Homo sapiens: one gene and its partner. The protein of the gene in region 2 purifies or fractionates together with the protein of the main gene of each other region. This does not show direct contact. Each region holds a gene or a part of one and is shown on either strand. Other genes may lie near its edges.

Region 1 (3,500 bases), on a different chromosome or scaffold from region 2:
TTTTCTTTGATGAATAACTCTTACTTGAATAACAGGTGTTTCTAAAAATGGCAAGTCTGTTAAAGAAAAGCAAATGCCTGTGTGATGCTGAGCACAGAAGCCAAACACATACCAGGATTTCCCGGAGCTCTTCCTCTCGCTGCTGCTTCTCTTTGAGCAGCTGCTGGAGCAGGGAGCTGAGGGCCCAGCGCTGCTCCGAGATCATCTCCTGCGAACAAGACCACACCCCGCACCACCGTGAGCTGGCGGCAGCGCAGGAGTCCCGCAGTGGCAGGATGGAGAAGGGCCTGGCCTCCCGCTCACTCGGTTCTCTGCCCAATGCCTCCAGGCTGCGTTGGGGGACAAAGCTAAGAGGCCCTTCTGCCCCCTTACCCTAAGCCCGCATCTCTCTTCCTTGTGGGGTTAAGTCAGGCATGGGATCCTGGTGACTGATGACAATGGGATGGTAAGAAACATCAAACAAAAGAAATGACAAGCCACAGGTGCCTGCCTTTGGTCTCCCAGACAACAGAGCACATGGGCAGAAGCAAATGGCGGGGAGCAGTGTGGGGCCCCACACAAATGGAGGTGCGTGCAAACCAGAGCCTGGGGTCCCTGCTTCACTCCTGCGCCTGCTCTTGGAAACCCCATGGGGGCCCCAACAGCCAGAGCCCTGCCACACTTGTGGGCAGGGACTAGGGCACCCGCCAGGCATGATGACCGCAGCTTCTCTGAGAGCAGTCCCAGTCCCCTCATCTCTGGAGATCATTTCAAGGCTCACAAAGGGCTTTCCCTTGCTAGCTCAGCCTTCTCCGATGGCCTGATGGCACAGGCTGGGCCTGGAGGACCGCTGCCATCTTATGGAGTAGGGGAAGAAGGCCTGGAGGGGCAGAGGCCTGTCTAAGGGCACACAGCACACCTGCGGTGCACCTGAGACCAGGGATCCAGATCCCAGACCCTTCACTGCACTGAGGAGTCCATGGGATGGCTTGAGACTTCTCCACTGAGAACAGACACAGGGACAGTGACAGACCGAAGGCTCTGCTCAAACTCCTGGCACAGGCACATGTCCTCACACACCATCCCATCCAGCCCTCCGTCTGCAGCTGGAGAGGCTGAGGTTCAGAGAGGGGAAAGGGCTGCCTCTCCTCCCCCACCTGCCAAAGTTGCACAGCAGGGCTGTGCTGGGCCACACCCGGCTCCCAGGCATCCAGTCCAGGACGCCAGCTGCCAGTCCCTGCTGCCCTCTCATCTGTGTGCGCAGGACTCCCGGGCTGGAGCCCCAGAGATGCTGCCTGCAGGGAGTTACACAGATGCGGCTGGGCCCTCTCCTCCAGACAACCCGGGACACCCAAAAGCTCCAGCCCTGGAGGATGTGTGCCTGGGGGCCTAAAGCACGGCCTACAGAGAGAGACAGGAGCTCAGCGGCGGGCCCGCACCCAGCACAGGAGACACAGTGATGGAGATGAGCAGGGGAGCCTTGGCAATGAAACCCTCCTTCCTCTGACCCTCCTGCCTCGCAACAGGCTGACCACCTCTAACCTTGGCCTGCGCTGGGCCTTCTGGGGCTGGGGGGTGTCCTCTGGTGTCACAGCCACAGAGGAGCTCTGCCCTCTGTCTGCTGGGGAAGCCCTTGACTCCCAGGGGCTGGTGAGCAGCTGCCAGAGGCTGGGAGGGAGCACCAGGTGGGGGTCTCACCACGTGAAGGAGGGCAGGGGCAGGGAGCCCTACATACCTGGAGTGACTCTGTGTCCAGGGACTTCCTCTTTAACTCCAGCTGTGTCAGCTGCAATAACTCAGTTTCTATTAACTTAATCTAAACAGAAGACGAGACAGGGTTTTTTTTTACTCACATTAACCACAGTTCAGTTTTGTGCTGCTACTCTCTGGTGACCAAGTGGGTCTAAGAAGCCTTTCTGGGGAGGCTGGGGAGGCTCTGGAATGAGGGGAACCTGCGGGCCTGGGAACCTCGTCAAGGGGCTTGAACAAGAATTCGTTCCTTCATGGCCTCGCGTTCCTGGGGCATGGACGTGCTTGTTGTGGCCAAAATTGTTTACCAAGAGGCCAGCACAGGATCTCTCCTAGAGTGGGATCAGGATAAAGGCTTGTGCAATGGAGAGGGGGCTTTCCTTGGGGATTCAGGCCAGAGTAAAGCACAGACAGAGCTATCACCCAGTCTCCTGCTGGTCAAGTTCTCTTGTCCCTCGCATCGCTGTTGCAGGGGAGAGCAGAGGGTAGTGGAAGTGACTGAGTAACAGTGGTAGTAGTAGCTGGTATGTCTTGAGCACCTACTATGTGCTAGGCCTGTGCTGCACACTTGATGTATCATATTTCATCAATTCTCTGGCTGCTAGGAGGTATTATTGCCTCCATTTTATAGACAAGAAAACTGAGGCTCAGAGAGGTTCTCACTTGCTCAAGGACACAGAGCAGGTAAGGGAGAGATCCCTTTCTCTGGGATGCCTCAGCTCAGGGTTTAAGGGCAATAGCTGACCTGGTCAAAACCATCTGCAGTGAGAATGTGGGGGGCCCTCACAGGCTCTCCAGGGTGTGTCTAGGGGATTTTAGCCCTGGGCAGGGGTGGGGGTCAGACCCCATAGCCAGTACTTCTCTATCCTGTGCCCATGACCCTGTGACCCTCATCCCTAAGTCCCTATGACACCACCAACCCCTGGTCAGAGGAATGAGCTTCATGTCCGGCAATGTGGAATTGAAATTAAAGAGGGAAATTAAAAAGGTAAATTGGTCCAAAAAAAGAAAGAAAGAAAGAAAGAAAGAAAGAAAAATAGAGAAAGAAAAAAACCATGCAAAAATGCAAAATTCAGTGTGCTGAACATGATGCAGGAGTACTCCCATAGCCTGACGCTCACTTCAGCCCCAGCCCCAGCCCCACTCCACAGGCGGTGACCACCAAGCCGTGTAGGTGGGCTTGCCCAAGGCTTGAAGGTCAGCAGCCGGCCTGCGGGGGGTGGGGGGTATCTTGTCACATGAGGGAGGGTCTAAGAGGAGGACCGCCTCCTCCTGGGCCGAGGTCACTTTTCAGCAGGCGTCAGGACCACCGTGGCTCACAGCTCCCCCTGCCCTCTTCTGGGGGAAATACTATATGCCCCTGAGACGCCTCTGTCTGTCTGAGCTGTAGGAGCGCTGGGGCCTGCGCCGGCTGCTTTTCCCAGTGGGGAAGTCCTGCCTGGAGCAGGGACAGCAGAGGCAGCTGGAGCAGTCAAAGCCACACATCAGCACCAGCCTCCCTGGCCCAGGCGTGGTGGAGACCCGCCTCGCTGGCAAGACCCTCGCCAGACCCCGGAATAGGAGGTCTCTAGACACCCTCCCAGCAGCCCCGACACAAGGCTGGGAGCAAAGGGAGGTTCTGAGGGCAAGGCCTCGACCTCTTGTTGGGCTAGCAAGCCAAGGAGCTGGGGTTCAAACCTCAACTGCTGCGACCTGCCGCCCTGGAGGGCCACTCTGCAAGTCTCTGAGAGAGCAGGTCCAGGGACCCCAGCCCCAGCGCTCACCTGGCTCCT
Region 2 (3,500 bases):
TCTTGCACCTGGGAGGCAGAGGTTGCAGTGACCTGAGATTGCACCATTGCACTCCAGCCTGGGCAATAAGAATAAAACTCCGTCTCAAAAAAAAAGTATATGAGGAATATATTCTTATAGTGCTTTGTGTGAAAAAATAAAATGGTAATGTATAATAAGACTAGAATATATTGGTATACAAGAAAACTTTAGAAAGTGTTGTTTTGTCTTTCATTGCAAATTAAAGGATACCTCTGACATGAGAGTAGTGAACAAGCGGTACGTGGTAATTTTCCTTTATCCTGCCTTTTGCATTTGGTCAAATCAAACAGAGTCAACAGAGAAGGTAATTGAGGCTCCCTCCACAGCTAACTGTTGGTTATCTAGTTCTTTGTTCCATTGGGGCTACAGATGTCAAATTTTTGGGAAATTTTAGCTGCAAATTCGGCTGTATTTTTCTTATTCATTATGAAAATGCCATGTGCTGCTTTGGGAAGTAATACATGCTTCCCTTTCATTGGAAGCATTTAAGTAGAAGTAGGGTAATAATAATGATTAACATGTACTGACAATTTACTTTGTACTATTTATCTTGGTATCAACTCTTTGAGATGAGAACTATTACTATTTTCTATTAAGATGAGAAACCAAGGCCTAGAGAGGTTAAATAGCTGGGATAAAGTGAAAAACTAATGACTGGCAGAGATGGGATTCAAACCTAAGGAGGTCTGATGTTAGAACATACACGCTAACTATTGTTACACACTACCTGTTCCTTGAGGGATGTGAATGGAGGGATTTGCTGTTTTGCTTGGGAGATTGTAATAGAAAGCCTTCCAAGGCTTTCTAACTCTTAAAAGACTAGGACTTTTTTTTTTTCTTTTCTATTTTTTTGAGGCAAGGTCTTGCTCTGTCATTTAGGCTGGAGTACATTGGCATGATTATGGCTCACTGCAGCCTCAACCTCCCTGGCTCAAGCGATTCTCCCACCTTAGCCTCCTAAGTGGCTGGGACTACAGATGTGCACCCAATGCCTGGCTAGTTATTTTATTTTTTTGTAGAGATAGGGCCTCACTGTGTTGCCCAGGTTGGTGTCAAATTCCTGTTCTCAAGCAACCCTCCTGCCTTCACCTCTCAAAGTGCTGGAATTACACGTGTGAGCCACCATGCTGGAACAGAAGGCTGGAATTTTGAAGTGGTCCATGTTACTTGTCAGGCCTACCTTGGTCCTCCTATTTACTGTTCCTCAACTGGGGCCTTCTTATCTCTGCTTATTAGATTGGCCCTCTACCAAAAGCTATCATTACTTGAAGCCTAGAGCAGTTAGCCTCAAATGTTAGGATACTAACCTTTAAAACACATTAGCATTTAAAAAAATTTAGATTCCTGTGGTAGGTCAGAGTTCTGTTTTACTTTGGGATATAGCGTAGTAATTTTCCCCCTTACCCGCATTGTTCCATGTAGTAGTTATTTAGGCAGCCTTAGCACATCCTGAAACAACATCCAGTCCTCCCTGTTCCAGGTTGCCACCTGTCTTTGGTCTTAGTTGAGGTAATAGGATTTTGCTTTGTTTCCCGGATCCTGTTCTGTGTCTATTAACTGTATTTTACCTTAGCCCTTTCCTGAGGCTCTATTCTTTTTTGTTTTTTGAGACAGGGTCTCACTCCCATTGCCCAGGCTGGAGTGCAGTGGTGCAATCTCAGCTCACCACAGCTTCGACTTCCCAGGCTCAAGCCATCCTCCCACCTCAGCCTCCTAAGCAGCGGGGACTGCAGGCGTATGCCACCATGCCTGGCTAATTTTTTTTTGTAGTTTTAGTTGAGACAGGGTTTTACCATGTTGCTCAGGCTGATCTGGGACTCCCAGGCTCAAGAGACCTACCAACCTTGGCCTCCCAAAGTGCTGATTACAGGCATGAGCCTGAGATTCTATTCTAGTAACATGCTTTGTTCTCTGGTTTCTAGAACTGGTCCTGCCACCATCTTTGCCAGACTCTCTCCCAGGGATCAGGTTGGCAGGCTTATCTGAGTTGTCAGATGGCATGGATTTCCGAGAATCTTCTTGTCTTTCCTTTACTGAGCTGTCTTCATCCATTGAAACTCCTGCCACCCTTATACTCCCTTAGCAGCCCTGCTACCTGTGGTTGTAGTTAAGAATATCTCCTACTCCATATTTCAGGAAGGGGCAGGACATTTTTTTTTTTTTGAGATGGAGTCTCGCTCTGTCACCCAGGCTGGAGTGCAGTGGTGTGATCTTGGCTCACTGCAATCTCTGCCTCCCCGGTTCAAGCGATTCTCCGGCCTCAGCCTCCTGAGCAGCTGGGACTACAGACATGTGCCACCATGCCCAGCTAATTTTGAATTTTTAGTGGAGACAGGGTTTCACCATGTTGGCTAGGATGGTCTCAATCTCTTGACCTTGTGATCCGCCTGCCTCGGCCACCCAAAGTGCTGGGATTACAGGCGTGAGCCACTGTGCCCGGCCAAGAACATTTTAAAATCTACCAATCTACCATTTATCCTGCCTTCTTTCCCTTTGAGGTCTCTTGGCTATATGCCACCTCTGCTCTGGAGGATTTTTGCATTTCTTTCTGGTTTGGGGCTTCTTAGAGCTTCCTTTGTAATTAGGATAGAGATAGGAAGAATGATAGACACAAAAGGTGTTTACCTTTGCTGCTTGCTTTACTTGCTATGTGTGTTTCTGCCTCCTGTGCTTGTGTACTCTGGGGCACTGAGCACACCATAGGTGACATGGTGCTAGATATGTTTAATGAGACAGTATGGTGCTGGTCTCCAGTGATGAGTGACAATGGACAACATTCATTCATTCACCCACCTCTTCCACAAATAGTAATAATTTATTTGTGACAGAATCTCACTTTGTTGCCGAGGCTGGAGTGCAGTGCAGTGGTGTGATCTTGGTTCCCTGCAACCTCTGCGTTTTGGGTTCAAGCGATTCTCCTGCCTCAGGCGCCCAAGTAGCTGGGACAACAGGCATGGGCCACCATGCCCGGCTAATTTTTATGTTTCTGGTAGGGATGGGGCTTCACCATGTTGGTCAGGCTGGTCTTCAACTCCTGACCTCAAGTGATCCTCCCGCCTTGGCCTCCCAGGGTGCTGGGATTACAGGCCACAAATAATTATTGAGCATCTACTGTGTGCTTTCTGGAAGTATATGATTTTTCACTCAAGGATTTTATACTTTAGTGGGCAGGGGTAAAATAGATAAATTCACTGCTGTGAGGTACAGTAATACTTAGATAATAGTGTGTGGAGTGTCTTGGGAGCAGCTGGGAGAGGCATTTAACCCAGCGGGTGGTAAGGAGTACTGGAAGGACAGCTTCCTGAAAAAGGTGATACTGAGCTGAGGCTTGAAGATATATTTTAACCTTAAAAATGAATTCCTCAGGGGGAAGAATGGATGCCTTGAAACTTGCTCTCAAGTTTTTCATGTGTTTCTTTTTGTAACTTAATGTCTCTACTTTGCATATGTCCCTTTGGCCTTTGCAGTCTCTATGTCTG

Evidence for each region. The genes of interacting proteins can lie anywhere in the genome.
Region 1: the proteins of ERO1A (region 2) and LRSAM1 fractionate together in Homo sapiens (co-fractionation; one large-scale study listed by BioGRID). This does not show direct contact.

Annotation. Positions count from the first base shown.
Region 1 is NC_000009.12:127,489,510-127,493,009, reverse strand, and holds part of LRSAM1 (E3 ubiquitin-protein ligase LRSAM1), read right to left. Parts: coding exon 3,492-3,500; intron 1,796-3,491; coding exon 1,715-1,795; intron 209-1,714; coding exon 113-208; intron 1-112.
Region 2 is NC_000014.9:52,685,559-52,689,058, reverse strand, and holds part of ERO1A (ERO1-like protein alpha isoform 2 precursor), read left to right. Parts: intron 1-3,500. UniProt on the Homo sapiens protein: Oxidoreductase involved in disulfide bond formation in the endoplasmic reticulum. Efficiently reoxidizes P4HB/PDI, the enzyme catalyzing protein disulfide formation, in order to allow P4HB to sustain additional rounds of disulfide formation.